Regions from separate parts of the Homo sapiens genome. Here all the other regions are linked to region 1. Evidence: fine-mapped expression QTL. A gene starts in region 1. Each other region holds a variant in brackets. All regions are shown on one strand. Distances are from middle to middle.

Region 1 (8,108 bases):
TCAGCCTCCCGAGTAGCTGGGACTACAGGTGCCCACCACCACGCGCGGCTAATTTTTTGTATTTTTAGTAGAGACAGGGCTTCACCGTGTTAGCCAGGATGGTCTCGATCTCCTGACCTCGTGATCCACCCGCCTTGGCCTCCCAAGGTGCTGGGATTACAGGCGTGAGCCACCGCGCCCAGCCTACTTTCACTATTTTTAAATTATGACATTTCATATTTGCAAAATATACAAATATGCCATCTATATCTATGTAGATATATAGTTACATAGATTGCATAAATAATAGTAAAATGAACATGTTACTACTACTCAGTTAAAAAACTGTGATTGAGACAGCTTGATGGCCCCCCACAATACCCACTCTCTCACTTTTCAATAATAATAGAAATGTTTTGGCCGATTGTGGTGGCTCACACCTGTAGTCCCAGCATTTTAGGAGGTCAAAGCGGGAGGATCATTTGGGGTCAGGCATTTGAGACCAGCCTGGCCAACATGGCGAAACCCCATCTCTACTAAAAATACAAAAATTAGCTGGGTGTGGTGGCACATGCCTATAGTCTCAGCTACTCAGGATGCTGAGGCAGGTGAATCACTTGAACCTGGGAAGAGGTTGCAGTGAGTTCAGATTGCGCCACTGCACTCCAGCCTGGGTGACAGAGCAAGAATCTGTCTCTAAATAAATAAATAAATAAATAAACAAGTAAAAGAAATTTTAGCTGGGCAGGTGGCTGTCTGGCTAAAGATTGCATTTGCAGGCTCTTTTACAGTTAGGCATAGCAGCCATGTGGCCAGGCTCTGGCCAATGGGATGAGAGCAGAAGTGATGTGTGCAACCTTTGATCATGGCCTTCAGAAGAAAGGAGCATAGCAGCCCCTTCTCTTTTTCCCCTTCCTATTGGTTGGGAGTCATGGCCAGCCATTTTTGATCACAAGGACAAGGGCAACATCTGAAAGGCGGCAGACTAATAAAATGGAAGAAGTCTGTGTCTCTGACACCATCGAGCTGCCATGTAGCCCTACCATGCCTACCCAGACATCAATGTGGGAAAAATAAACCTCTATTCCATTTAGGTTGCTGTAGTTTGCCCAGCTGTAGTCTAAAAAATTACCAATACCTTTGAAACTTGCCATGTGCCCCTCTATAATTGCATTTACCTTCCTTTCTATCAGGAGTAACCACTATCAGGATTGTACTTATAATTCTTTTCCTTTTCTTCATAGCTTTGCCACATGGGAGCTGCAAAGTGCAGTCACATGTTTTTGAAGTTTATATAAGTAAAATAATACTGTGTGTATTTTGCCTATGGCCTGCTGTTATGGACAGAATGGTATCCTGCCCCTGCTCCACCCCCAATTCATATGTTGAAGCCGTAATCCTCCACAATGTGATGGTATTTGGAGATGGAGCCTTTAGGATATTGGATATCATGAGGGTGGGGCCTTCATGATGGGATTAGTGCCTTTATAAGGACTTTATAAGGAGACACCAGAGAGCTTCCTCTCTTTCTCTCTCTGTCTGTCATGTGAAGACATAGAAGGTGGCCATCTGCAAGCCAGGAAGAGAGTTCTCACTAAGAAACACACTTTGACTTTGGACTTCCCAGCCTCCAGAACTGTGAGAAATAAATTCCTGTTGTTTAAACTATTCAGTCTACGGTATTTTATTATGACAATCCAAGCTGACTAATACATCTGCTTTTTTTTTTCACTCAACATATGCTTGTGCAATTCATTCATGTTCATAAGTGTACCTATAGTTCATTAATTTTTTACTGCCATATTAAACTTGCTATATAATATTAAATTACTTGAAAATACCAGTTTATTTACCCATTCAATATTAGTGGACATATAAGTTATTTACAGCTTTTAGTTATTGTACAGACAAAGGTGTCATGAGTATTCTTATACTTATCTCCTAGGATACATGTGCAAGAATTTCTTTAGGATCTGTTTCTGGATCAGAATTGTGGTGTCAGAGTACACACATCTTCAACTTCACCAGATCATGCCAGGTTGTTTTTCAAGTGGTTGTAACCATCTACTCTTCCTAGCAAACACTTCCACTTGGGTACGCCACATAATTAAGTTCTGGCCAATGAGATACATAATACAACAGTCCCCTTATCTCCAGAGACATATTCCAAGACCCACAACTGTTGCCTGAAACTATGGATAATGCCGAACCCTATATGTACTATGTTGTTTCTAATAACCAAGATGGCTAATAAATGAATAAAGGACAGGTGGCTTATATAGCAGGGATACACTGGACAAAGAGATGATGTAAGTCCTGAGTGGAGAAGAGTGGGACTGGGTGAGATTTCATCACGCTACTCAGAATGGCATGCAATTTAAAACTCACACTTTATTTCTGGAATTTTCTATTTAATATTTTTGGACTGTGGTTGACTGTGGGTATCTAAAACTGCAGAAAAGTAAAACCAGGGACAAAGGGAGACTACTGTATGGAGAAGTGTTGTTTGGGAGTTTTGGAGAGGCACCCCAGTTTGCTCACCAGCCAGTGATATCTACTTTTTGTTTTTCCTGTCCTCTTACTCCTTCCTGCTGCTTGAAACACAAATAAGATGACTGGAGCTTCACCAGCCATTCTGAATCATGAGATGGCCTTATAGATACAAGTCAGAGAGGATATTGGAGCAGAGAGACAGAAAAGCCTGAGTTCCTGATGACCATGGAAACATCGTACCAGTCTTGGAGTGCCAATTCTGTACTTCTTTTATGTGAGAGAGAAATAAATTCCTGTTGTCTAAGCTATTCAGTCTGTGGTATTTTGTTATGACAATCCAAGCTGACTAATACACCTGCTTCTTTTTTTTTTTCAGTCAACATATGCTTGTGCAATTCACTCATGTTCATAAGTGCACCCTGGAACATTACCATGTTCCAGGGCTTCTCCTATAGAAACAGAACATAGCCCAGTTGATTATTTTTTATTCTGATTGATTTTTAGGAGTTCTTTACATAATCTGGGTTCTACTCATTGTGGGTTTTGAGGGAAATACCTTTTCCCAGTTTATGGCTTGTCTTTTCATTCTCTTGATGACGTCTTTTGATGTACATTAAAAATTATCTTTAATACAGTGAAATCGGCTAATCTAGAAAAGGATTTTTTCCTTGGACTGTTCATGGCATCGGTAAATTAAAAAGTAGTTACTGTCAAGTTCACTGCACATAAACCAGCATTGTTAAAAGTGGATCTCCATCATTCCATTTCCTTTCCTGCATTTGTCAGCATCGTTTTTCACACTAAAGATGAGGAGATCCATATTCCTAAGACATATACGCTTGGTCTGTAGAGACCCTCATTGCTCTAAGGCAGTGGTTGCCAGTTTTTTCCTTAAAGGGCCTAGTAGGACATAGTCCAGGCTTTGCCAGCCATACGGTCTGTCACAACTGAATTCTGCTGCCCTTGTAGCATGAAGGCAGCCAAACAATAGGTAAGGAATAAACATGGCTTTATTCGTGGCACTGAACTTTGAATTTCATATAATTTCACAACACAAAATTGTATTCTTTTGATTTTTTCCAATCATTTAAAAATGTCAAAACCATACTTAGCTGGAGGGCTGTAGGAAAACAGGTGGTGGGCTGGGTCTGGCACACAGGCAGCAGTTCGTGGACCCCTGTGCCAAGTGTTTGACGAAGCCCGTGAGGCAAACTGCACTTGCCGATAGAGGTTGCGCCACACAAGTGTCTTGGAAGCAATTTCTGGCTTGTCCTAGGCCTTAGAAAGTGCGTGCAGATCAGAGCCATGAAGTGAAGAGCAAAGCAAGTGACAGGCCTGTCTCAGGTTGTGCAACAGAACGTGTTTATGACAGATGTCCCCTGTCCAAGTGAGTGCACTGTGAGATAAGGGGCCGGTGACCTACCAATGCGTGTGGCAAGCCAGCCTGTTCCCCCTTGCAGGGGGAGGACACTCCTGCCCTTTATTCCAGGGAAGAGTATGTGTAAAAATATTCACCCTTGTTGGTATCAAATGCGCTGAAGAAAATAGGTATCGGGGTTTCAGCCATTCGGTCTCCTTGTTAGTGTTTCTAAGCCCTGATTTTCAGTTTCAAAACCTTGGTCTCTGAATCCGCAGTGATGGGTCTCTAGAGCGAATACATGGCAGGGCCGCCTTCCTCCGTACAGAAAGGGAGAATTGTGCTTGTGTGTTTTACCAAGCAGGACAGATGGGGCCGTCACCCCCGTGACCCGAGCCCTGCAAAACTGTGTTCTCACACGAAAACCCCCAGGCTCTGCGGGCAGCGTGGTCCTGCAGTGGCTAACACTGGGCGACCGGAGTCGTGTTCCGACCCCTAGGAGAGGAACCGGCTCGGTCGTGGTGCAGCCCGCGAGGAGACGACCTCAGGGCGTAATCCGACGCCGTGGGTTAAGACATCAGACCTCAGGCGCAGTGCAGCCGGCCCCTGGGGAGTCAAGGACCTTGATCGCCGATAACAAGTTGCCGTTGGCGGGCGCCGAGGGTGACCCGCGAGCGCGGCACCCGCCTCCCCGCCCCTAGCAGGACCCCCTCCGCCCCGCCCCCAGCCGGACCCCTCCCCGAGGCCCCGCCCCACCCGCGAGCCGCAGCCGCGGCCCCACAGCTTCTGGGGCTGGGGCCCCGGCAGCCGGGCAGGCCGGCCTGACCTCGACCTCCGCCGTGCGGGCCCGACCGGTGAGTCCAGCCCGGCAGTCGCAGGACCCGGCCGCCAGCCTCTCCCTCCACCTCTCCCTGCCCCCAGCGCCAGGCGCGGGCTGCGCTCGGTGGCGGCGGCGGGGCCCTCAGGCGGCCATGGCGGCAGGCGCCGGGGCCGGGTCCGCGCCGCGCTGGCTGAGGGCGCTGAGCGAGCCGCTGAGCGCGGCGCAGCTGCGGCGACTGGAGGAGCACCGCTACAGCGCGGCGGGCGTCTCGCTGCTCGAGCCGCCGCTGCAGCTCTACTGGACCTGGCTGCTCCAGTGGATCCCGCTCTGGATGGCCCCCAACTCCATCACCCTGCTGGGGCTCGCCGTCAACGTGGTCACCACGCTCGTGCTCATCTCCTACTGTCCCACGGCCACCGAAGAGGTAGGGCTGGCCGATCGCCCGAGCCGGGCCCCAGATGCGCTGCGGGCGGGTCGCTGGAGGCGCCGGGGGAAGGGCGGACCCACGCGCGGCTGAGCCTCTCCCGGGCCCCGGAGGGGCGGACTGGCCACTGCCCCGGGCGGTGTCCGCCCTGGGCCGCCTGGAGACTGTCACGCCACTATCCCAATCCCGTGACCATCCCAAGCCTCCCCTGGGCAGCGGAGGGGCTGTTAAGGTCACTGCCCCAGGTCCTATGTCCGCGCAGATCCTCCCCACGGCCGCGGACGGGCCGGAGGGCGCCTGCCCAGCCGCTATCCCATGCGGCGCCAACCTGTGAGACGGACCCGCGGTCGGGTGCTTTGCACACTGGGGACTGAACACCCCCATCTCCGTCCTGCCTGGCACAGGGACTTGTGCCAAGCCCGAGACGCCCTTTGAATACTTTCGTAACCGTTCGTTTCTGGAAGGTTGAGCTAGTGATCTTGAAATGACCGGTAGCACTGATCAAAGATGAGTTAAGAGGTAACTTCCTCTTTGCTTCATCGACTTTTTCAAGAAAAACAAACTGGAATGTTATCAAGGCAATAATTTTTTTGTCATCACAACCTAGGGATTAAAAAAACCCCAACATTTTATTAGCAATAATTACATTTGACCTTTGTACAAAATAAGGAGTAAATATAGGCTTTGGATAGCTGTTCATCAGAAGCACCCTTTGGGCTGAGTGTGGAGGGATAGGGGGCAGAGTGGAGTTCACTCCCATCTATAGTTTATACTACGTGGGATAAATATTACATTGCACATTCTGTGACATTACTTTCTATTCTCTGCTCCAAATAGTGAAGTCCCTTTATAATCATTTGAGTGTAGGCCTTGTGGAGGACTCATGGAGGTTGAGGTTGGATTAACAGAAATACAGTGGAAATATTTCATGCCCTCCATGCATGCATCCATTTTGTTGTTGTTTTTGAGACAGGGGTTTACTCTGTCACCCAGGCTGGAGTGCCGTGCCGTGGCTCGATCTCGGCTCACTGCAACCTCCGCCTTCAGGGTTCAAGCGATTCTTCTGCCTCAGCCTTCCAAGTAGCTGGGATTACAGGCGCGTGCCACCACGGCCGACTCACTTTTGTGTTTTTAGTAGATACAAGGTTTCACCATGTTGGCCAGGCTCATGCATCCTTTAAAAACAAAAATTTGATCGAGCCTACATTTTAAAATATCTTGTCAATGGATTGGTATGCTTATTATGTATTTCTTTTCTTTTTTTTTTTTTTGAGACAGAGTCTCGCTCTGTCACCCAGGCTGGAGGGCAATGTGGTGATCTCGGCTCACTGCAACCTCTGCCTCCTGGGTTCAAGCGATTCCCTTGCCTCAGCCTCCTGAATAGCTGGGACTACACGTGCCTGCCACCACGCCCGGCTAATTTTTGTATTTTTAGTAGAGACGGGGTTTCACCATATTGGCCAGGCTGGTCTCGAACTCCTGACCTCAAGTGATCCGCCTGCCTCGGCCTCCCAAAGTGCTGGTATTTACAGGAGTGAGCCACTGCGCCAGGCTTATTATATATTTCTTAATAGACATTCCCATTGTCATTTGCCATTGCTATTCATTTACATATTACATATGAAAAAGTAAGCTGCTTTAGTTTTTGGCTGTTTTGCTGCCTGTTTCTAGAATTTACCAGAGGGAGTGTGTTAGAATGAAAGGATAGCTGGGTTGGAAGTGGAGGTCTTGGTTTCTAACTGGCTCTTCCACCACAGACCTGCTGGGTCTGTGTTCCCACAGATACAATAGAAAATAATGCCTGCCAAAACAACTTGACAAGGATGCAGTGAGGACCAAATGATATATATGCAGATAAATGTAAAAGATTGCGATGTGCCTAACAAATTAAAAATATCACTCAACACATTAAAAATATTACTGTTATCAGACAACATCCTGAAAACACATAATAAAATTTAGTTTTGATTGGGTCCAGATTTAGCTAACAGCATTTGAATGTTTCTGATATTGGCCAGTTAAGTTGTGGACTCTTCAATGTTATTATTAATTTAAGAAGCATTTGTTGAACACTTAGAAAGAGCAGGGCTTACCAAAAAAGTCAAGAGCTTCTGCCTAGGGAAGTAAAGGGAGGCCTGATGGAAGAGGTACGTTTATGATTAATTAGTTTTTAGGATCAGCCTCATGTGAAAAAAAAAAAAAAAAGGGTGGAGGGTGGGGATTGGAGGCATTTAAAAATAAAGTGCAAAATCAAATGGCCCAAGAAGGGTAAATGAGAGTTAAAAACAAGAGTTTCTGAAATGTATGTCACTAGAACCTTCATATGCTTCTGAGTGACTGATGCAGGGAGGGGAAACGCCATTACAGGATCCACATTGCTTGTTTGGTGAAAGCCCAGCAACAGTGTGAAGAGTGTAGCAGTTTCTGGCTATTTTCTCTTAAGTTCATAGAACTAGCAAATGACTGGATCAGGTAGGATTCAGATCTAAGTTGGTATGACTTCAAAAATAAAAAGATCCTATGTTTTACATAATACAAATATGTAAAGTGCTTTCACATCCATGGTTGCATTTGTGTCTTGTTATCAGCCAAAGAGGTTAGCAAGTTTTCCGCTTCCTACAATGGCCCTCCTACCACCTCAGTATTTCTTCTATCCATCTATCCTGAAGTAACAGTAGTATATGTTTTCATAAGAGGAAATTGAAGCCCAGAGATGTCAAGTGACTTTCAACTGGCTTGGGACTTGTTTTCTGATTCTCAGACTTAAGAATTCTTAGTGTTTTTTTCAGACTTGACAGATTGCTTCCAGAAAGAGTCAGCAAAAACACATAAGGTTTTTCGATTTAGATGCTTGGGCTTATCTACTCATATAGGCTTTAATACTGAGTGCATGAATAATAACATTTGATACGTTTTTAAGCATGATGCTAATTTCTAGAACATGACTGGGGATAAAGGGAAACTAATAGAAAAAAGTTGTGATTTATATTTAGCTTCTGCAAACTGCTTTTCAAGCCATCATTTCCAATAAGGAA
Region 2 (8,108 bases), 280 kb before region 1:
TGTTTTCACTTTTTGGCTATTTGAATAAAGATGCTATTAACATCTCTGCACAAGTTTTTGTGGGTACATATGTTTTCAGTTCTCTTGGGTATATACCTAGGAGTGGAATTGGTGGGTCATATGTATGTTTAACTTTTTGAAGAACTACCAAACTATTTCCCATGGTGGCTATGCCATTTTACATTCACACCAGCAATGCATCTGGGTTCTGTTTTTTCCACATTCTCACCATCACTTATTTTCCACTTTTTAAATTATAGCCATCCTAGCAGGTGGTTTGCATCGTGGTTTTGATTTGAATTTTGCTGATAAAAACTAATGATTTTGAAAATCTTTTCACATGTTTATTGGACATACATATATCTTCTTTGGAGAAATGTCTATTCACGTCTTTTGACCATCTTTTAGTTGGATTATTTTTCTATTGTTGAGTTGTAAAAGTTCTTTATATATTCTGTGTACTAGATCCTTATCAGATTTATGATTTACAAATATTTTCTCCCATTCTGTGAGTTTTTTCACTTTGTTGAGCATGCCCTTTGACACACAAACGTTTTTAATTTTTGTTTGTTTGTTTGAGATGCAGTCTTGCTCTGTCGCCCAGGCTGGAGTGCAGTGGCACAATCTCTGCTCACTGCAAGCTCCGCCTCCTGGGTTCATGCCATTCTCCTGCCTCAGCCTCCTGAGTAGCTGGGACTACAGGCGCCTGCCACCACGCCCAGCTAATTTTTTTATATTTTTAGTAGAGACAGGGTTTCACCGTGTTAGCCAGGATGGTCTCGATCTCCTGACCTCATGATCCACCTGTCTCGGCCTCCCAAAATGCTGGGATTACAGGCTCGAGCCACCGCGCCTGGCCAAAAGTTTTTAATTTTGTTGAAGTCCAGTGCTCTGGTTTGAATGTGTCCTCCAAAGTTCATGTGTTGGAAACATGATCCCCAATGCCACACTACTGAGAAGCGGGACATTTATGAGGTGATTAGATCATGAGGGCTTTATCCTCATGAATGAATTCATGTTGTTATCAAAGGAGTGGGTTTGTTATCACTAGAGTAAGTTTGTTATGAAAGCGAGTTCTGCCTTTTCTCTCAAGAATGCTCTCTTGCCCTTCCACCTTCTGCCATGGGATGACAGAGCAAGAAGGCCCTCACAGGATGCAGGCATCTTGATGTTGGACTTTCCAGCCTCCAGAATTGTGAGAAGTAATTTTTTCTTCTTTATAAATTACTCAGTCTACGATATTCTTTTATAACAACACAAAATGGACTAAGACATACAAGTTATCTATTTTTTTTTTCAGCTGGGTGTGGTGGCCCATGCCTGCAATCCTAGCACTTTGAAAGGCCGAGATAGGTGAACCACCTGAGGTCAGGAGTTCAAGACCAGCCTGGCCAACATTGCGAAACCCCGTCTCTACTAAAAATACAAAAATTAGCCAGGTGTGGTGGTACACACCTGTAATCCCAGTTACCCAGGAAGCTGAGGCAGGAGAATCCCTTGAGCCCAGGAGGTGGAGGTTGCAGCGAGCCAAGATTGTGCCACTGCACTCCAGCCTGGGCAACAGAGCAAGACTCTCAAAAAAAAAAAAATCTACTTTTTTCTTTTGTAGCTTGTGCTTTTGGTATCATATCTGAGAAACCATTGCCTAACCCAAGCTCACAAAGATTTACAGTTGTATTTTCTTCTAGGAGTTTTATTGTTTTAGCTCTTATATTTTGATCTTTTTCTATTTTGGGTTGATTTTTGCAAATCGTATGAAATATGGATCCAAATTCATTTGCTTGGCCAGGCTTGGGTGGCTCATGCCTGTAATCCCAGTACTTTGGGAGGGCAAGGCAGGCAGATCGCTTGAGGCCAGGAGTTTGAAACCAGCCTGGCCAACATGGTGAAACCTGTCTCTACTAAAAATACAAAAATTAGCCAGGTGTGGTGTTGCATGCTTGTAATCCCATCTACTCGGGAGGCTGAAGCAGGAGAATCACTTGAACTTGGGAGGTGGAGGTTTCAGTAAGCCAAGATTGCACCACTGCACTCCTGCCTGTGTGACAGAGAAAGACTGTCTCAAAAAAACAAAACAAAACAAAACAAACCCTGCCATGTGAATATCCAGTTGTCCTGGCACCTTTTGTTGAAGAAAGTAGACTTTCTCCATTAAATGGTCTTCACACCTTGTCAAAAATCAATTGATCATAGGTAATATAAATTTCTTTTTTCTTTTCTTTTTTTTTTGAGACAGAGTCTCTCTCTGTCGCCCAGGCTGAAGTGTAGTGGCGCAGTCTCCACTCACTGCAACTTCCACCTCCTGGGCTCAATCGATTCTCCTGCCTCAGCCTCCCAAGTAGCTGGGACTACATGTGTGTGCCACCACGCCAGGCTAATTTTTTTTTTTTTTTTGAGATGGAGTCTCACTCTGTTGCCCAAGCTGGAATGCAGTGGTGCAAACTCGACTCACCACAACCTCCACCTCCCAGGTTCAAGTGATTCTCCTGCCTCCTCCTCCCAAGTAGCTGAGATTACAGGCACCTGCCACCACGCCTGGCTGATTTTTTGTATGTTTAGTAGAGACAGGGTTTCACCATGTTGGCCAAGCTGGTCTTGAGCTCCTGACCTCAGGTGATCTGCCCACCTTGGACTCCCAAAGTGCTGGGATTACAGGTGTGAGCCACTGCACCCAGCCTCTTTTTTTCTTTTTTCCCTTTTTTTTTTTTTCTTTTGAGATGGGGTCTTGCTCTGTTACTTAGGCTGAAGTGCAGTGGCATAATCTCAGCTCACTACAACCTCTGCCACCCGGGCTCAAGTGATCCTCCCACCTAGGCTTCTGAGTAGCTGGAACTGCAGGTGTGCACCACCACACCCAGATAATTTTTGAATTTTTAGTAGAGACAGGGTTTCACCATGTTGCCAAGGCTGGTCTTAAACTTCTGAGCTCAAGTGATCTGCCTGCCTTGGCCTCCCAAAGTGCTGCTGGCATTGCAGAGATGAGCCACCACACTTGGCCCATCTTTTTTCTTTTTTTAAATAATTTTAACTAATTTTACAAAAAAAAAGTCAGTATTCATTTCACATTACTACATTACAAGTTTATTTCTGAATTTTCTTTTTTTTTTTTTTTCTGAGACAGAGTCTCCCTCTGTTGCCCAGGCTGGAGTACAGGGACACAATCTTGGCTCACTGCAACTTTCACCTCCTGGGTTCAAGTGATTCTCATGCCTCAGCCTCCCAAGTAGGTGGCATTACAGGTGCACACAACCATGCCTGGCTAATTTTTGTATTTTTAGTAGAAACGGGTTTTCACCATGTTGGCCAGGCTGATCTCAAACTCCTGGCCTCAAGTGATCCACCCACCTTGGCCTCCCAAAGTGCTGGGATTACAGGCATGAGCTACTGTGCCCAACCTCTGAATTATCAATTCTAGTCCATTGATGTATATGTTTATCTTTGTGCCAGTACCACACACACCGTGTTGATTTTTTTTTTTTTAATTTTGAGACAGAGCATTACTCTGTTGCCCAGATTGGAGTATGATGGTGCAATCATAGCTCACTATAGCCTCAAACTCCTGGACTCAAGCAATCCCCCTGCCTCAGTCTCCTGAATAGCAAGGACTATGAGTGTGCAACACTATCCCTGGCTAATTTTTTAATTTTTTGCAGAGATGGAGCCTCACTATGTCGCCCAGACTGGTCTTAAACTCCTGGCCTTGAGTGATCCTCCCACCTTAGCCTTCCAAAGTAGCTGTTGATTATAGTAGCTTTGTAGTAGGTTTTAAAATTAGGAAGTGTGAGTCCTCCAACTTTGTTCATTTCCTACTTTGTCTTGGCTATTCTGGGTCCCTTCCATTTCCATGTGAATTTTAGAATCAGTTTATTCATTTCTGCAAAAAAAAAAAAAGGCAGTTGGAATTTTTATAGGGATTACATTGAATCTGTAGATTAATTTGGGAAATGTCTTAGCTTTTTCCTGCTGCTATAACAAACTACCTTAGACTGAGTAATTTATAAACAATAGAAATTTATTTATCGTTGTTCTAGAGCTGGGAAGTCCAAGATCAACACACTAGCAGATTTGGTGCTTGGTAAGGATTGCTATCTGCTTCCAAGATGGCGCCTCTTGGTCCTTTCTCATATGGTTGAAGGACAAAAGGCATGGAGCACTCCTTTCTACCTTTTTTTTTGAGATGGAGTCTCACTCTGTCAGCAGGCTGGAGTGCAATGGCAAGATCTCGGCTCACTGCAACCTCCGCCTCCCAGGTTCAAGCGATTCTCCTGCCTCAGCCTCCCAAGTAGCTGGGACTACAGCACGTGCCACCACACCTGGCTAATTTTTGTATTTTTAGTAGGGACGGGGTTTCACCATGTTGGCCAGGATGGTCTCGACCTCCTGACCTCGTGATCCACCTGCCTCGGCCTCCCAAAGTGCTGGGATTACAGGCATGAGCCACCAC[G/A]CTCGGCCCCCTTCAACTTTTTTAAAAATAGTACTAATCCATACATGAGGTCAGAGCCCTTGTGAATTAATCCCTTCAATAGAAGTCCTACCTCTTAACACTGTCACATAAATAGAGTAGTTTCCCCTTATCTGTGGTGAACTTTTCGAGGTTTCACTTACCCATGGTCCACCTCGGTCCAAAAATATTAAATTGAAAATTCCAGAAATAATTCATAAGTTTTAAATTTCTTGCTATTCTGCGTAGCATGTTAAAATCTCACACCATCCTGCTCTGTGCTGTCCTGGATGTTAATTTTATCCCTTTGTTCAGCATATCCCTGCGGTATATGCTACCCACCTGCTAGTCACTTAGTAGCCATCTCAGTTATCAAATCAACTGTCACAGTATTACAGCGCTTGTGTTCAAGCAACTCTTGTTTTGCTTAATAATCACCCCAGGCTGGGCGCGGTGGCTCATGCCTGTAATCCCAACACTTCAGGTGGATCACCTGAGGTCAGGAGTTTGAGAACAGCCTGACCAATGTGGTGAAACCCCGTCTCTACTAAAAATACAAAATTAGCGGGACGCGGTGGCTCATGCCTGTAATCCCAGCACTTTGGGAGGCTGAGGTGGCAGATCATGAGGTCAGGAGTTCAAGACCAGCCTGGTCAACCTGATGAAACCCCGACTCTACTAAAAATACAAAAATTAGCTGGGCATGGTGGTGTGTGCCTGTAATCTCAGTTTACTCAGGAGGCTGAGTCAGGAGAATCACTTGAACCCCGGAGGCGGAGGTTCCAGTGAGCCGAGATCGTGCCCCGCATTCCAGCCTGAGCAACAGAGCAACACTCTATCTCACAAAAATAAATAAATAAATAAATAAATAAGCCGCGTATGGTGGCGCATGCCTGTAATCCCAGCTACTAGGGAGGCAGAGGCAGGAGAATCACCTGAACCCAGGAGGCAGTGGTTGTAGTGAGCTAAGATTGCACCATTGTACTCCAGCCTGTACGATAAGAGCGAAACTCCGTCACAAAAGAAAAAAAAAAGAAAAGAAAATCACCCCAAAATGCAAGAGTAGTGATCCTGGCCATTCTGATATGCCAAAAAGAAGCCTTTGCTTTTTCCAACCCTCCCTTCCATATTACTCATTTTCTGACTCCCATGCTTTGTACTCTGATGCAGTACTCTTAGTAATCAGCAGTGAGGAGATCTAGTCCTGGGCGCTCCAGAGCATTGTCATATACAGTTTGATACTATCTGCAGTTTCAGGCATCCACTGGGAGTCTTGAAACATATCCCCCATAGATAAGGTCAAGAGGAGGGTACCGTGTTGAATTCCAACATATGAATTTTGGAGGGATACCTACGTTCAAACCATAACAGGAAGTGCTGTCATCTTAACAACATTTATGGGCCAGGCACAGCAGTTTGTGCCGGTAATCCCAGCATTTTGGGAGGCCAATGCCTGGGTTTTGTAGGCCAAACCCAGGAGTTTGAGACCAGCCTGGGCAACATGGTAAAACCTCATAACTATTTAAAAAAAATAAAAAATTAGGCTGGGCGCGGTGGCTCACGCCTATAATCCCAGCATTTTGGGAGGCCAAGGCAGGCGGATCACGAAGTCAGGAGTTCGAGACCAGCCTGGCCAACATAGTGAAACCCCATCTCTACTAAAAATACAAAAATTAGCCGGGCGTGGTTGCATGCGCCTGTAGTCCCAGATACTTGAGAGGCTGAGGTGGGATAATCGCTTGAACTTGGGAGAAGGTGGTTGTAGTGAGCCGAGATCATGCCATGGCACTCCAGCCTGGGCGACAGAGTGAGACTCCCTCTCAAAAAAAAAAAAAAAAAAATTACAAAAATTAGCTGGGCATGGTGGCACACACCTGTAATCCTAGCTACTCAGAAGGCTGAGGTGAGAGGATCGATTGAGTTCAGAAAGTCAAGGTTGCAGTGAGCTGTGATCACACCACTGCACTCCAGCATGGGAAACAGAGAGAGACCTTGTCTGAAAAAAAAAAAAAAAAAAAACCATAAAAAACAATATTATATAGGCCAGGAGTGGTGGCTCATGCCTGTAATCCCAACACTTTGGGAGGCCGAGGTGGGTGGATCACCTGAGGCCAGGATTTCAAGTTCAGCCTGGCCAACATGGCGAAACCCCGTCTCTACTAAAAATACTAAAATTAGCCGGCGTGGTGGTGTGTGTCTGTAGTCTCAGCTACTCGGGAGGCTGAGGCAAGAGAATTACTTGAACCCAGGAGGCAGAGGTTGCAGTGAGCTGAGATTGTGCCATCACACTCCAGCCTGGACGACAGAGTGAGATACAAATACATATATAAATTTTTTTCAATGTTTTGGAGTTTTCAGTAACAGGTATTACAGTTCTTTGGTTAAACTTACTTATTTTGTTGAGACAAATGGTTCTTAACCTGACATTCTGTTAATTCACAGTAGACTTCTGGGAGCCTGCACACCTATTAAAGTTATTTTCAGAATTTTATCTCTGTGTGTACATGCATTTTTTTTTTTTTTTTTGAGATGGACTCTCGCTCTGTCACCCGGGCTAGAGTGCAATGGCGTGATCTCGGCTCACTGCAACCTCCGCCTCCCAGGTTCAAGCAATTCTCCTGCCTCAGTCTCCCAAGTAGCTGGGATTACAGGCGCGTGCTACCACGCCTGCTACCACGCCTGGCTAATTTTTGTATTTTTAGTAGAGATGGGGTTTCACCATGTTCGTCAGGCTGGTCTCAAACTCCTGACCTCATGATCCGCCTGCCTCGGCCACCCAAAGTGCTGGAATTACAGGTGTGAGCCACCACACATGGGCCATGCATTCTTTTCTCAGAAAGACAGTCTGGAACCTCTATCAGAATCTCAAAGGATCGGTCTCTGACCTAAATTTTTTTTTTTTTTTTTTGAGATGGAGTCTCACTCTATTGCCCAGGCTGGAGTGCAATGGCACGATCTCGGCTCACTGCAACCTCCACCTCCCAGATTCAAGTGATTTTCCTGCCTCAGCCTCCTGAATAGCTGGGATTATAGGCACGCGTTACCATGCCTGGCTAATTTTTGTTTTTTTACTAGAGACGGGGTTTCACCATGTTGGCCAGGCTGGTCTCGAACTCCTGCGCCTGGCCTGTGACCTAAATTTGTATTTTTGTTTTTATTTATTTATTATATATAATAAACAGAAATGTATTGGCTCATGATTTGGGAGGCTGGAAAGTCCAAGACTGAGAAGCTGACATCTGGCAAGGGCCTTATTCTGTGTTATCCCATGGTGGAAGGGCAAAGAGAGGGCAAGAGAGAGCCAAAAGGGGGCCAAACTCATCCTTTGATAAAGAAACTTTGATGCCTGGGAGCAGTGGCTCATGTCTGTAATCCCAGCATTTTGTAAGGCTAAAGAGGGTGGATCACTTGAGCCCAAGAATTTGAGACCAGCATGGGCAACATGATGAAACCTCATCTGTATAAAAAATTTAAAAATCAGCCAGGCACAATGGCTCATGCCTGTAATCCCAGCACTTTGGGAGGCTGAGGTGGGTGGATCACGAGGTCAGAAGTTCGAGACCAGCCTGGCCAATATGGTGAAACCCCGTCTCTACTAAAAATACAAAAATTAGCTGGGCATGGTGGCGTGCTCCTAGTAATCCCAGCAACTTGGCAGGCTGAGGCA
Region 3 (8,108 bases), 47 kb after region 1:
TGCAGTGAGCAAGACCATGCCATTGTACTCCAGCCTGGGCAACAGAGTGAGACTCCATGTCAAGAAAAAAAAAAAGAAAATTGCGGAATAATATGTAAATTATGAAACATGATGAACATACCACCTAATTTATGAAGTAGGGCTTTACCAACATTCACTGAATCTCCTCAGGCAGGCCTTTCCATCCGATCCTCACCAGGACCCCACCCTTCCCCATTCAGGGATATAAGAAAATTATCCTAAATTTATGTAAATCATTCACCCTTCCTTATTTTCTAAGTTTTATTACCACATGAAAATGTGTCGTTAAACAACACGGCTTAGTTTCGTTCGCGTTTGGCATTACAAAAAATTGTCCCATAGTCTATGTAGTGTTCTGACAGTCCACTAGAATGGCAAAACTACAAAATATGACTACACGGAGTGATGATGAATCTATGTAACAAAGGGAACCCATTCAGTGGGTGGGAGTATAATTGTAAAACAATTATTTGGTGTAACTGGAAATCACCTATCAATTGCAAAACAATTTTTGAAGATACAATTTATGAAGGAAATGAAACTCACCTATAATCCCACTACCCAGAAATAATATACAGTTTAAAATTGGGGGTATTATTGCCTTTCATCCTTTTTTCTGTGCTTATATGTATTTTCCCCCAAATAATTTTAAAATATATTTCAACCTTTGTACCTGCCTTAGTTTGCTCACAGCTCTGCAATCCTTTTTCTATTTGAAATCATACATTTTACTTTTTTTTTTTTTTTTTTTTTGAGACAGGGTTTTGCTCTCTTGCCAAGGCTGAAGTGCAGTGGCATGGCATGATCACGGCTCACTGCAGCCTTGATTTCCTGGGCCCAAATGATCCCCCTGTCTCTGCCTCCTGCGTAGCTGGGACTCATGCACGTGCCACCATGCCTGGCTAATTAAGAAAAAAAAAAAAAAAAAGTTTGCCGAGATGGGGTCTCACTATGTTGCCCAGGCTGTTCTCAAACTCCTAGGCTCAAATGATCCTCTCACCTCGGCCTTCCAAAGTGCTGGGATTACAGGCATGAGCCAACTTGCCTGGCCTATATTTTACTTCTTTAATATTTGGCAAAGGCTTCAGGATCTTATTGACGCCAATCACTTTTCAACTGCCTAGTTCAAGTAAGAGATTCAAAGGAACCCTCCTGTTTACTGTTTTGCTTTGAATCCTCTTCCTTATGATGCTCAGCATTCCACTGGCTCGTTTAAATACACCAGTGTATTGGGTAAGGAATGACGGATGACGACTCCCAGACTTGTTCCTGTAATTCCATTCACTACATCAAACCTGTTGATACAGGATACAGTGAACCTTGTAAATTTTTCATTACTGAAAGGATTCAAAAAAGTTTGTAAAGCGTTAGTACAGTACCTGCCACATAATAAATGTGCCATAAATGGTGGCTTTTATGATTGACAATTGGTCCCAATTGGAATCCTGCTTTTCCTCTCTTGCCAGCCTCATTCTTGGCCTCATACTGCATCAGCCACATTGCGTTTTCCCAAATGTGCTGTGCACTCTTATGCCTCCATACCCTTATAGATGCTGTTCTTATTAAGTAGTTCCATTCACTACATCATCATATTCAGTTGTTTTTCCTACAGTGACCCTTACAGAAGAGCATCTGTCATTTTTCTTCTTTATTCGTAATAAAAATTTCCCAAGATTATCTCCAGCACCTTGGCATTTCACTGCTGTAAAGAGCATGTCTGGAGATTTCACCATGTGCTTCAGCAGGTAATTTATAGATGATTTTTAACCCACACACCAATATTTCATGACCTGTCTCAGCATTCATTCTTAGATGACCACATTGTTAATACTTCCCCATATAGATCATCACCCATTTATTCCAATCATCTGGATTCCTAACAAAACATTTTCCCATTTTCTTTAGTAACCAATGGTGTAGAATCTTGTCATTATTGTTTGAAAACCTAAATATTACATCCCTTGTTTCCTTACTCAGTCTCAAAGAACTCAGGTAATATAGTCGAAATCTTAGAGGCCAGGAGCAGTGGCTCATGCCTGTAATCTCGGCACTTTTGGAGGCTGAGGTAGGAGGATCGTTTGAGCCCAGGAGTTTGAGACCAGTCTGGACAAAATGGTGAGACCCCATCTCTATTTATAATAATTTTTAAAAACTCATAGAAATGTCTCCATAGATAAACTACTCAGTAGGTAATAAGAACAGCATCTTTAAGGGTATGGAGGCATAAAAGTGCACAGCACATTTGGGAAAATGCAACGTGGCTGACACAATGAGGCCAAGAATGAGGCTGGCAAGAGAGGAAAATCAGGATTCCAACTGGCACCAATTGTGAATCATAAAAGCCACCATTTATGGCGCATTTATTATGTGGCAGGTACTGTACTAATGCTTTACATTTTTTTAAATCCTTTCAGTAATGAAAAATTTACAAGGTTCACTGTACTCTCTATCAACAGATTTGATTTTTCCAATTGCTTTCAAGTATGGCAGCTTGCCTTCACCTTGAGTACCTAATCCAGGAACTTGGTCTTCCACCTGCACCATCTCTAATCTGTGAAGCTGGAAGGTGATGTTTTGTAAGCCCAGCATCCCTCCCCTCCTTCCTTGGGTAAAAATCTCCATCCCTCTGGCTACAGAGGTGGGCACAGAGCCCAGAATGAGCCAATCACAGTAACTCATCTCCCACCAGGATTTTCTATATTGAAGCCAGAGAGGAAACTTCCTGCCTCTCTGGAGTATGTGAGCCAGGAACTGCCATGTCCTCACCAAGGAGAGAAAAGCTGATGTGCATAGAGAAGCACAGATAGACAGTGCTGAGCAATGGTTCAGGAAGAGTATCTTCCTCCTGTACCCCTCTTTGTTTTTCCTTAAGAAGCTTGAGTTAGATTTGTCCCTTGCAATCCAAGTTTATTTAGTGGCTAAAAATTAATTTTGTAGAGACTTGGGTGGAAAAGCTGTCTCTTAACTTAATAGACCTGAGGTGAGGCACTAAACCTAGTTAGGCCCCAGTTCCCTCACTGATAAGTGGGGATATGGTGTGGATGAAATGAGATTATGAACATAAAGCATTTAGCACATAGATTGTGTACAGTAAGATATAGCTGTTATTAGGGCAAGTGAGAGGAGAAAAGCAATTAGACTGACAAGAAGCCCCCTTCACATCCCTTTAACCACCATGGCTCTGTACTCCTGTCACAAGGAAGCCTGGGATTTCCCTTAAAACATATCACAAAGAAAAACGGAGCATGAATAAATGTGGCAAAGTCTTGATAACTGTTGAGCAGATGAGAATTCATCTATTGGTCTTTTTAAAATTTTTTATGATCTTTTTTAAAGAAAGATCTGTTGAGATTATCATCCAGTTTCTTTTGGTCCTGCTGATGTGGTGAATTGATTTTCAAGTGTTGGGCCAAATTTGCATTCCTGGAGTAGGCCCC[A/G]CTTGACTGTGAAGTGTTGTTCTTCTGGGAATAACTGAATTTGGCCTGTTAGTATTTTGTTTGGGATTCTTTTGCAGTAGACTGCCCATGGTTTTTGTCTTGTGGTATCTGAGCCAAGTTTTACTGTTGGGGTTGTGTTTCAAGGGATGAGTTGGATGATACTGTATTTTGCTTTTTTCTGCTCTCTGGAAGAATTTGTGTGGGACTGGTGCTGTTTCTTCCTTAGATGTTTTGACGTAAGTAGTGATTACCCTTTAGTTTAAATGCTTAATCTGTTATTATTTGTATACTTCTTGGTATATGTAGAAATAATTTTCAAAATGAACACTTTTGCCAGGCACAGTGGCTCACACCTGTAATCCCAGCACCGTGGAAGGTCGAAGCAGGAGTATTGCTTGAGCCCAGGAGTTCAAGACAGCCTGGATAACAGTAAGACCCTGTCTCTACAAAAATATAAACAAAATTAGTCAGGTGTGGTGGAGCACATCTGTGGTCACAGCTGCTCAGGAAGCTGAGGTGAGAGGACTGCTTGAGCCTGTGAGGTTGACGCTGCAGTCAGCTGAGATCACGCCACTGCTCTCCAGCCTGGGGCAACAGAGTGAGATCGTCTCAAAAGAAACAAACAAACAAAAAACACTTTTGAAGACATAAGGTAGGTTAAAAAAATCCTTTGTAATTAGAAAATGTGTCACTTTTTTAGCTAAGAGCAATATAATCATCTCACCCTAATGACTAGACTAGGAGCCTCACCTCTGGCCTGGACAACAGTCTTTAACACGAATTTTCATCATTACCATCATCACCACTGACATTTAGCAGGCAGGACTATTTGCCAGGCACTGGGCTGCGTGTGTTGCACATGTCATTTCCTCTAATTATCACCATAAGCCTCTGTGGTAGCTACCAGTATTGCCTCCCACATTTTGGCAGAGAAAGCTAAATCACGGCAAGCAGTGTCCAGGATCCAGGACTTGAACTCCCGTAGTCTGACTGCAGAGTGTGCTCTTCACCCACATGTGCCACAGTCCTGGGGAGGCAGCATGGGCTGGTGGGGACAGGAAAGAGGGACAACCCGGGTTCCCACCCTACCTCTTCCTCTAACTGGTTGTAAGACCTTGAGCAAGTCATGTCATCCCCGTGGCCTTGGTGTCCTTGCCGATAAAAAGCAAGGGTTCGTCCAGACAGTTGTTTTGAAACTCTGCCCGAAGGGCCTGGGAGCTGGAGGGAACACCTTGAGAATCAGGCAGGAGAAGCAGCCTTCCTTCTTTTGTATCACAGAATTTTTATCTGTCCAAAATTCATGTTGAAACTTAACTGGCAATTTAAAAGTATTATGAGGTGGGGCTTTCAGAGGGTGATAAGTCATGGGAACAGAGCCCTCATCAATTCAATTAGATGTCTTTATTAAAGGGCTTGACAGAGGCAGTTTGTGCCTTCTTGCCCTTCTGCTCTGTGAGGACACGGCATTCAAGAAGCCATCTTAAAAGCAGAAAGCAGCCCTCACCAGACAACTAAACCTGCTAGCCCCTTGATCTTGGACTCTCGGCCTCCAGAACTGTAAGAAAATGAATTTCTGTTCTTTGTAAATTACCCAGTCTGAGGTATTTTGTTACAGCAGCACAAAAAAACTAAAACACAGAGTGACCTTTTCTATAGGATTTGAACAAATGGTTCTGACCATCTGACTGCTCATCAACTTCTGAGGTTCCTCTGTTCTAATGATTCTACTGAATCACAGAATCATTAGAATGAGTCTATGAATAGCCTATGATTGTATTATCCATCCCATTATCAAGCTCCTAATTAGGTATGGACTATATTCATCTAACCACAGAAATCGTCATTACAGACAAATGTTCATTTCTCTAACTTTTCTAGAATAAATCTCAGCTTTTATAATGATACCCAGATATCCTAAATTTTACCATATGATAAATTCCATTTAGAAACTATTTTCCCCCCATAAAGCAACATTCTTCTGTATAATACTAATCTTTCCTTACTTTCCACTTAATTTTAGTAATGTTCAGCACAGAACCTGATACACAGTAAAGGCACTCAAGTGACTGCTGAATCTGAGTAACAGTAAACTCAATCCTCAAAGATTTAAAAATCAAAGTGTCAGACAAAAATTTAACTTTTTATGAGATTTCAGTTTTTGAAATACACAACTCTTACAGCACAAACACAGTATTTACATTTCAAGTTCTTTGTACAAAAGATGTATGCCATTTTGGAAGAATATTGTTGAGATCATGATCTAAAATACCTGTCAGAGTTACTCATGGAATCTGCTCTTCACAAATCCATTGTATTATGACATAAAATATGGCTAGACGCCAAGGTTTAACCATACATAAAAATACTAATTCTCGGCTGGGTGCACTGGCTTATGCCTGTAATCTCAGCACTTTGGGAGGCAGAGGCAGGTGGATCACCTGAGGTCAGGAGTTCAAGATAAGCCTGACCAATATGGTGGAACCCCCGTCTCTACTAAAAATACAAAAATTAGCAGGGTGTGGTGGCATGCACCTGTAGTCCCAGCTACTCAGAAGGCTGAGACAGAACTGCTTGAACCCGGGAGGCGGAGGTTGCAGTGAGCTGAGATTGCGCCACTGCACTCCAGCCTGGGCAACAGAGAGAGACTCTGTCTCAAAAACAACAACAACAACAACAACAAAAACTAATTCTCAGTGATTGGCAAATGATGGCCTGAGGGTCACATCTGGCTGGTGGGCAGTTTTTGTACAGCTGCAAGCTAAACATGGTTTTTACATTTTTAGAGGGTTGTTTGAAAAAAAACAAACTAAACAACAGCAAGAAGAATGTATGACAAAGACACAGGTGGCCTGCAATAATTTACTAACCAGCCTTTTACAAAGAAAGTTTGCTGGCCTCTGTTCTATCAAAAACCAACTGAGAGAGATAGCTACTGGAATATACCAATGAGTATTAAACAAGACACCACTGTAATGTGCCAGTGCCATCAGCACTACTCATTTCTAAAATGAGGCACTTCTGTTTGAATATGTACATTTCCAAAACATAATTACATCTGGTAAGTAGTACTAACTCTAGCCCTTTGAAATTAGACCTGCACGTGAAATCATAGCATTCTTAGGGGCTGAAGTCAATAATTACAAAGCATTTCAGATGTCAATCATTGAGCTCTTCAGTAGTTAGTGGTTTAAGACCATTTACAGTCTTAAATATTAATAAAACTCATAATTTAGGTATTGTCAATAAGAGGTGATATTGCTGCATTATTTAAATAACATCTATAAAAATAGGTTTAGACATCCCAATTCGTTATACTCAGAAGCAAGAATAACTAGTTAACTTAGTAACTACTTAAAAATGGGAAATGAAAAAAAAAAAGTGCAAAACTTTAGCAAAAGGCTTTGGAATGCAAAGACTGGAGCCTCTTAGCAATCACTCCCAGCTGGCATAGGCTTCTCCTAATAAAGTTAGTCTGCAATGATTGCTGTGGGAAATTAACAGCTGTCTCTTGTCAGTGAGCCTTTTTATAAAAAGGATGACAGGTCCATGAGCAAATTCTTTAAAAGTAAAATCAGTTCAGAGCTGCTCAACACACAAGTTTTCAGTGGGTTGGTTAAATAATTCCTGGTCAGTGGGCTATATTCATGCCACAAAACAGCATGGTACTGGATATTTTCCTTCTTCGGGCCAAACTGCTAAGCATCACATCACAAAGACATCTCTGTGAAGCTGAGTTTTAAAATGCTCAGTAAATGCTGAGGTAGATGGTTTTCAAATGAAGATCTTCTATACTCTGATTCGATTGGGACTAGCTTCTTTGTGTATCCTCCTTCTGGGAAATATCTTCCGCTTAAGTGCAATTAACTAAATGATGAAAGACAGAAAATACATTTTAATTCTCACGTTGATGAAAGAATATAAGTGCATCAAACTTTCTAAGAGCCATATGACCTTAATCATTTCCACAATCTTATACATTAAAAAGACAACAAACAAATCTCCATCATTCCTCTTCCAAAACAAAAACAAATATTAGTTTTGTTTAGCTTTGTAGGGACAGTATGCCTAGATATGTGCCCACAAAGAGACCCAAGAGGATTAAAATTATTTCGGCCCATGCTTCATTTTTCTAAGACCTACAACTACAGATTTTTACACAGCTATTACCAAAGCATATTTATTTTCAAGATGTCCATTTGTCAAGTCTTTCTATTGAAGGAAACTGGCTCTATTTAGCCATAAGACACTGTCTCTGGGTTGATATGATGGCTTATTCCTTCATCTGTAGGAGGAGGCAGGGCTTTGCCCAAACATAAGACACCACGGTTTGAATGATGAGCTGGAATTTGGGAGGGGAGGAAGAGGCAGCATTGGCTGCTTTGTTTGTGAAGGTGGCAGGTATGGCAGGAGGAAGGAGTTTGACTCCAGTAGAGAGCAGAGTGTTGGGATTTAACCTGCCCTTCCCTTCCCTCTTCCTGCCTCTCTAGTTCCCTATTCTCTACTGGTATAGATAGACTGGTATAGATAGAGGAAAGACTGCCTCTCTAGTTCCCTATTCTCTACTGGTATAGATAGAGGAAAGACTGACACTCCTCTTCCTTTCCATTAATGGCTGCTCCTTTGAGTCAGGGCTCCTTTCCTTCCCCATCC
Region 4 (8,108 bases), 80 kb before region 1:
ATCAGTGATGGAAAAAGACATGATTGCATCCTGGCAGGCCTGCATTACTGTTTTCTTGATTTCTGTTACGGTGCAATCCATTCATTTTTCTATGCTCATTCCAGCCTTCCTAGACTAGAACGGGGCATTTGGCCTACACATAGTGGTGACTGTTCAGCCAAACTGCTTGTTATGGGGCATCGTCCGCCCTGCTTAACAAGAGTCACTTGTGGAAAAAAATGTGGAAAATCCCATATGCTGACAAAGGCTCCCAGGATTCCACAATGTGCCTATAATACAAAAACTTTGTTATCTTTATATTTTATTTAGTAATCAAGTAGAAGATAATTTTAGAAGCGATCACCTTCATTAACTGCCTCTTCTTGTCCTGGAGATGAAGCAGGTGGTTCATGAGTGAGTGATACTCACATGTCACTAATTCCCAATTCTGGGCATCCACAGGGATTTGGCACGGGAAATGCTATGCTCTTTGTTCATGTGGATGCCTTTACCTACTTGGAAATAGTATGTTCTTTAACAGAAGTTTCTTTGTCAGACTTCATAGCCAGACTGCTCTGTAATAACCAGACATCGAAAGCCAGGTAAACCAAAACCAAACCTCAAAACCAGAGCCTGGAAAATTTTGGATAGGTGTAGGTGGGAATCTACTCCAAGCACGTATGCTTCCAGAAACAACTCTGAGAGGGCTTAATTCTGTTTCCCAGTGAATTGCACCGTCCTTGTAAAACAACAACAACAAAGCACTGCAAAGCCAGAGGACTTTCATGTCATCTGCTTTCAGAAAGTGTCTCTCATGCAGGCAGAACAATGTTGGCGATGCAGTGGTGCTCTTGCTTTCTGGGAAAAAGGGGTCTCATTTCTGCACCGACCTTACCTTAGACTCTACGGGATATGCTCACCATATGCTTGCTACCCATTGTGTTTCACTTCATCCTAACAGCAGTCCTGCCCATATAAGATGCGGCCATTTCTCTAGAGGCAGGAAAACAGGCTCAGCACAAGTAAATGCCCGGCCTGCCTCTGGAGGGGATAACTAAGTGGCAAGGACACTCGGATCCCCATTCTACCTTTATCTTTCCATCACTACACCATGCCACCTCCTGGAAATCTATATACCACACATAAATGGCAGCATGTATGTCTTGGGCCTCTTGATGCAGTAGGGTGTGTGTGTGTGTGTGAGAGAGAGAGAGAGAGAGAGAAGAGAGAATGTGTTTCCCTCCTCCATCCCTCTTGTGAGTACACACAGGTGAGATGGCTGCCTGCAGCAGAAGCTGCCTGGGGCTGTAGAAAGCAGTTCTTCTCTGTGATAAATGAGCCTGACATTTCCATGACTCTTTCCATTTCTAGAAAATGAAGTGCCAGCCCCAGCCCCACCCCCGGAAGGTGAGTAAAAACACTCACTCACACACGTTTGGGCTGCAAATACAGAGGGTCCATCCCAGCATGATTTGGCCTCCACGGGTGCTGTGAGCTGTGAGCTTTAACCTAACTCCTACTGAGAAGTTGGATGGTGACCATTGTGATAAGTTGAGAATAATAAAAATAATACACTGTGTTTATATAATCCTCTTGTGTTAATCTAATTTGGATGGCACTTCATATATATTAGGGGGACAATTCTTATGAAACCTTTCAAATTATGTAAAAGTTATTATGTCCGCATTTTACAGTGTGGAGGCTGAGCCTCCATCCAAGGGGCTGAAGAATTTGTGAGGCTTTTTCCTATATAGTGAAGGTCAAACAAACCCACATCTTCTTTATGAGAGTGGGGAGTGGATCCATCTCTACCCTGGAAGATCAGCTGTCCCTTCTCAACTTGACATATGTCACTATTGAGCACCTCCAGAAACTCCCTAGCAGCTATCCAGAAAGGTTTGGTGACCTCTGAGGTTCAACGTGAGGACCAACTTCTTGAGTTCTTAGCACCATATTGTCCACCAGCTGGCAACAGGAAATGAGTACAGAGATCCAGTGAGACCCTTGGCAGGTAGGGCAGTCCCCTATGACACACAATATATGAAGCTTGTTTTTATGTCCACATACACCTAAAGAAGAAAAGAAAATTAAAAGATTAAAAGATTGAAAGCTCAATGTGGCTTAAACTCCCAACATGGCTCTTCAGAGTCATTTATCAGCCAAATAGCCCCAAGATGGAAGCAACCAAAATCATGTGCATTTTCCCATAAAGACTCCAAAGTGGCCTTCCTCATCCCTCTTCCTCCTTGAAAAGGATGAGAAACTGGCATCCCACTCAATAATTATTCACTAGGTATTTACCCTGTGCACAACTCTGACCTAACCCTTCAGAGGGATTCAGACATACCTATCATGTACGTATTGATAGCTAGGTGCAAGCATATTGTACCAGATGTAGTGGGGAACTCTACATAGAAAACATCTCCCTGTATTCAGTTTGTTTGCAGCCAAGTAGAAAATAGAATACAGCCTGGGAAACAATTAAATAAAATGCAGCCAAAACATTAAAACATTAGGCAATATTATAAGAACCCCCCGCCCCCCCCCCGCCCCCCCACACCAAGCAGTATGTGATTACTTGTGAGTTGCTTAAACTGGCAATGTGTTATGAAGCCAGCAGGTGACTGTAGACCTGGTCCAGCTTAGGTGAAAGCAGGAGTTTGGAGAAGGTCTCAGTTTCTAATCATCTTTTCACACAAAAACTTATGAGGCAATTATAAAGCTCTTCCTCTTCCTCCCTGGAGATCGTTTTTCTTTTTTCTTTGTTTTCTTTTTTCTTTTCTTTCTCTTTCTTGAGACAGGGTCTTGCTCTGTTATCCAAGCTGGAGCGCAGTGGCACCATCACAGCTCACCGCAGCCTCAAACTCTTGGGCGCAAGCAGAGATTGTTTTTCAGGAGGGCAGTTTGAGAAATCTAGCTGCTCACAAGAGGCCCTTTGTCCAGCTAAGAATACTAGATTCACACACTCAAACCCTAAACAGTATAGAGAAGTATTACTATGTGTCGAAATGAACGAAAACTGGCTCAGTGCCATATGAGTTCAAACGGGAAAGCTCAGATTTATTTTCTTTAGATCTTGATCTTGAAACTAGTGTAGATGTGTGACATTCTTCTTAGGATCTTCCTGTTCCTTGGTATGTTTTCTCCTTGCCCATAACAAATGTACTTTGACCAACATTGAGTACACTGAGAACCTACTGGCCATTATAAACAAACCTTTCCCTTCTGTTTTTCAGATCAGTTACTGCCACTGAGCCACTATCGTTTCCTTTGTATGTCATATTTCATATTCATTGCACAATATTGACTT[C/A]CTGTTGCTCAAATGTCTCCTCCCAAATTCTGCTAAAATTGTCCTTCTTAGTTAACTGAGATTTGAATCTCCATTCATCAGTCCGAAAAAAGAGAATGCATTCTTGAAACAATTCTTTTCTTACTGATTCCATAAGTCAGATACCATTTGCAGGTCTAAACTAATATGATCCCAAACACAGAGAAATGCAAACTAGATGGTCTCAACTGGTAGAATCTGATGTTACTGCTCTTGTTTTGCATTTATTGCCACTAAACCCAATCCAGAAGATTCACATGGACACTGAAACATTTTCTTTGAAGCAACATACACTGCACACAATTACATATTTTGTACTTTACTAGAAAATCTAGAAGTCCAAACTCTTGGAATCATTACATGGGGCAAACTGACTTTTCTTTAAAAAGTCAGTCCCTTGCTGAGGTCTAAAATAAAGTGGCTCACATTTGTTTTGCCTAATTCTACTCCAGCATGTTATATAACATGATCCAAGTATAGTTGAGTGCATTTTAACAAAATCTGTATTGAGTGTTCTTATGTGTACTTTTCCAAAAATGATCAGATTAATTGCTTTTCACTAAAAGTTTAGTGTGGCTCTAAGTTATAATTTCTAAATTCATAATTCATGTACAGCACGAGTATTCAGTATCATTTATGACCTGTTCTGCTGTCATTTATTTCTTCCCTCCCCCTCTCCACCCCGTTGCTCATCACACAATAAAATGCTTTAAGGCACTTTAAAAAATATGCTTGTACTTTCTACACAGAACCAAGTAAAGAGAAGGAGGCCGGAACTACACCAGCAAAAGGTGAGTTGGAGGGAGGGAGAGTGAGGCTGAAGTCAACAAAATTAGAAGCAGAAAGAAGTCAGTAATGATTGTCATGGTGGCTCCATAGAATTTCTCTGCATTATCTTTCGTTCTGCCTTTGCATCTTATCTGCAAGTCCCAATCAGTATAATGACAAATGGTGCATTGCTAAGTTTCCATTACATGTATTTCTAAAAGAAAAACAACAATGATAAAAATATCACAAGCACTTGTTGAGATGCCAGCAAATTAATTGGTAGTTTCCAAGTTTCGACATGCATGCTAAGAAAGAGAGGTGTTTGGTCTTCTTAGGATTATATCAATTGGGAAAATTATCTGAATTACCCGGTTTTTTTTTAAATTAAATGTTTTCATGTTATTGTGTGAACTGTTCCAGGGTTCACTAATAATTTTGAAGGCTAGCATCTCACTTTGTAACACTGACTATGTATTCATGTAGATTTATATAATGATTTCTACAGATACACAATATAACATTAAGAAGACATGTTGCCCCTTCTTGAACTGGAAACTATTCCTGTAATATTATCCTATTTTTACTTTATATGGAGATAGTCTCATTTTAGAAAATAATCTTAATCATATACTTCTGTTACTCCATGAAATGCTAATTCCTTTGTCTCACCATGGAAGAAATGATTATCATTACTGACCATCTGTCTTAAGCTAAGGAGCATTAGTCTTTCATAGAGGGAAGTTTCATGAAGGTGGATTAGACAGCTTTGCTGTATATGTTTGTATTGTCATTTTAAAAGTGAACCTTTTATTTGCATAATGAATAAAAAAGTTTAAATTTTGGAATAACTATTTCCTGACTGCAACAAGAAGTTTCTCTTTTTCCTGGACACTGCTCAAAACCATGTTAAGTATCTCTTTGTTCTTGATGTGTCATATTTCATTATCTAATTTCTATGATATTCTTGTGTCCTATACATTAGTAAAATACTTTTTTCTTTCTTTCAGTAGATTGGATTACTTTCCTTCAGCTAACTTGAACTTATGCTCTCATAATGAACGCATAACGTTAGTATACTCACTTTGTCCTTGACCTTCAGTGGCTCCCATGGAGAGTAACATGAATACTAATCCTGGCCACGTGGGCGCAGTTTGAAGGTTATTTGCTTATGGAATGCAGACAGTGCAAACTCCTAGAACTCCTTCCATGGGATGGTTTCAAGGAGGTTTGGGCATCCTGGCTGAAATTATTGTAATATTATTCTCTACAAGGCCAATGGGCATACACCTCTGTTTCCAAATTTGGAAAGGTGTTTGGGCCAGGCTGCAAGGCTCAACCAACAGAGCAGATGATGTAATCCCAGAGGGCAAGCTGTCAAAGTTTAAACAAAGCCTGTGCCTGACCCTTAATTTGAAAAGTCACCATATTATACTTGTATGCTTAAATGAGAAAATGTCTTTCCTTAAAGTCAACCAACCAACAAAAACTCTTTTATTTATGGAGAACACAGCGTGATGAAAGAGCAAGGCTAGATGACTAGGGCATTTTGAAATTAGTAGCATTTTTCTGACGTTTGCAGAAGATAAGCAAAACCATGACCACATGCAGTTGCATGCCCAGGTACAAAAACTGCCGTGTGTGTGTGTGTGTGTGTGTGTGTGTGTGTGTGTGTGTCTGTATATATATTATATAATGGCAAATACATGTATATATATATGTATTTGCCTTACATACCTAGGAAGCAAATCAATTTGGGATAGAAAGTGACATCCCTAAATAAAGAAGGTAAGTGAATGGAAGTTTATAATAAATATACAGTCCTCTTCATCAAGGACAGAGAAAATACCTATGCAAAAAGTAGACACAATAATTACTGCTACTTGGATATCCCCAGTTGAGAAAGGAGCCCTGCACGAGCATAAACAGGATTGATGGGTGCAACCTACCTTTTCTCCAGCATGAGCTAGAACTCTCCTGCTCTCCCTCCCTCCTCCAACTGTCAGTCTATTTTTTTTTTTTAACCATCCAACTCAGGTTTCACTTCTTTGAACAGCTTTCTCCTGACCATCCTGGCTTACTTTTATCTCCCCTTCTTTCTCCTGATTTCTCTTGGACCTGTTGCCTCCATCATTCAATCACTCTTGTCTCCACATAATCGCACATTAATGGTTGACTCCTTTTCCTAACAGGTTGTAAGCTTTTTGACATTGGCCCCCTCATCTTATTCCCTCCAGCATCTGGCAGAGAGCTGCACATAGCAATCATCTAATGAATACTTGCAAAATGAATGAGCAGTTGAATTTCCATGCTGGCTTAGCTGCTGACCATTCAATGGTAATCTGGATAGATTTTTATTTCCATTCAACATGTGTGCTGGGTAGGAGGATGAACATCCTATGTATGTTCTTAGTCACTGAGGGTTAGAATGAGACACTGCTGCAGAACAGAAGGATGATTTCCACTGTAAGACCAACTTGCCTAAAGCTACTGAAAATGGTCTTGCCTGGATTTTGGTACATTTTCAGCACTTTAACTGGTCTTCTATTTAATTGGTTGACATATATTCAATTAATTGCTCCAAATCTGTCACTATTAAGAATATTATTCATCGCAATCCAGCCTTAACATCATTCCCAGATTGATTGAATCATTCTGCAACAGCTCAGAAATGTTCTGAAAATGCTTTTTGAAGCCACAGAGAGTAGATTCTAGAAGATTTAATCTTAGAAGTAGTATTTGTGATTAGATTTGCCAACTTTTTCATATTTGCTAAAAGTCTCTGTCTGGAAAGCAGCCAATTTCCCAGCACGGGGTTTTATGATTGTTTGCTTGCTTGCTTGCTTGCATCTGGCTATCCATCCAGCTATCCTGTTCCTTAATACTGACCACTTTGTCCTGGGACCTGGGCAAAGTCTTCTGGAATTGAAACAAGAGAGATGACAATAAAGAAATGTGTTTAGCCCAACAGCAATAGCAGAAATTAGATGTGCAAATCTCCTTTAGAGGAATCATACCAGGAGGCAATGCCTTTATACAAATAACGCTGTCCTGGCTTAGAATTCTTTCATAATAATTATAGGTAGCAAATTGATGGAACACTAAATATAGATTCTTTTCTGTATGCTCAGTGGGGCCAAAGATTCGCCTTTTATTCTAGCACGTATTTATTCAGCAAGATTTGCTGAGTGTTGGCTACATGCCAGGCACAGATCTGGGCACTGGGTCCTGCCCTCCTGGAGCCAAGTTACACTTTATGGGGAAGAACAACCATCAACAGAGGAAGGTGGATTTCAGTTTTGAAAGCAGACAAGAGTCACAGAGGGCCATGTGTAGGGAATAACGTGGGTGATCAAGTGGGATCATACTTTTTTTTTGTCAACTAAGATCCAACATCCTATGTCTGAACATAGGGTAATTGGAGTAGGTTTCTGCTGTGCCTCAACAGCTGGCCCTGTGGAAAGTTCCGAAAATGGTTCTGTGGCTGGTCCAAAAAGTGACAGCAGCATTAGAATCAGAGGCCACTTTGAAGACCTGTACTCATTTCCATGCCTAAGTGCTGATATTTTATTTTTACATCTTATTAGCTTAGAGTCTGTATCTTTTCAATTGGTAAAGTTACTTCCTTTTTTTATTACTGCTTTTGGTAATCGTGAAAAGGGAAATAAAACCTTATTTTCTTTTCCCAGGCATTCACCACATAAACTATCGTGAATGAACCCTGTGTGTATTAAATATCTCACATAACCTGAGATGAAGTCTTTCTTTTTCATGAATGTGACTGGCAGATGAGGAAGTGAGTCAGCAGAAGTTCCAACCTGAATTATGTGATTTTGTTTTAAATTTAAAAAAATGATTTTTAAAAAAATTTAGGTTCTTTTACATCTGCAATAACATTACCCTGGTGCTTTTTACTAGCATGCTAAAATATTTTTGTACGATTTACCTTTAGGTGTCAATCAGCCATCTACTAAAATTTCTCCATGCTTAATCTATGTATTCTAATTACATTACTTCTTTGTAATGAACTTTGTTA

Evidence for each region.
Region 2: its variant is fine-mapped to the expression of CHPT1 in lung (TOPMed, PIP above 0.99).
Region 3: its variant is fine-mapped to the expression of CHPT1 in thyroid (GTEx, PIP above 0.99).
Region 4: its variant is fine-mapped to the expression of CHPT1 in monocytes (TOPMed, PIP above 0.99). The same link has a PIP of 0.9 or more in blood mononuclear cells, non-classical monocytes and tibial nerve.

The regions. Positions count from the first base shown.
Region 1 is chr12:101,693,062-101,701,169 of GRCh38, forward strand. It overlaps CHPT1 (choline phosphotransferase 1), which reads left to right and starts at 4,579. Exons shown (of 9, transcript NM_020244.3): 1 at 4,579-5,073. The coding sequence starts at 4,801. It also overlaps a transcript of MYBPC1 not described here. RefSeq lists an enhancer at 4,053-4,302 and silencers at 4,523-4,862, 5,123-5,312.
Region 2 is chr12:101,415,888-101,423,995 of GRCh38, forward strand. No RefSeq gene overlaps it. Among named protein-coding and RNA genes, the nearest start is that of ARL1, 12 kb to the left of the region's middle. The variant G/A (reference allele first, on the strand shown) is at 4,445.
Region 3 is chr12:101,739,920-101,748,027 of GRCh38, forward strand. It overlaps GNPTAB (N-acetylglucosamine-1-phosphate transferase subunits alpha and beta), which reads right to left. Exons shown (of 21, transcript NM_024312.5): 21 at 5,580-7,322. The coding sequence ends at 7,245. LOC124902997 (a long non-coding RNA gene) reads left to right here and starts at 4,071. Exons shown (of 2, transcript XR_007063424.1): 1 at 4,071-4,110; 2 at 4,869-5,048. RefSeq lists enhancers at 3,839-3,928, 4,049-4,158. The variant A/G (reference allele first, on the strand shown) is at 3,459.
Region 4 is chr12:101,613,146-101,621,253 of GRCh38, forward strand. MYBPC1 (myosin binding protein C1) reads left to right here. Exons shown (of 32, transcript NM_002465.4): 2 at 1,351-1,386; 3 at 4,057-4,098. It overlaps LOC105369938 (a long non-coding RNA gene), which reads right to left and starts at 2,639. Exons shown (of 5, transcript XR_001749279.2): 1 at 2,558-2,639; 2 at 1,409-2,048. The variant C/A (reference allele first, on the strand shown) is at 3,290.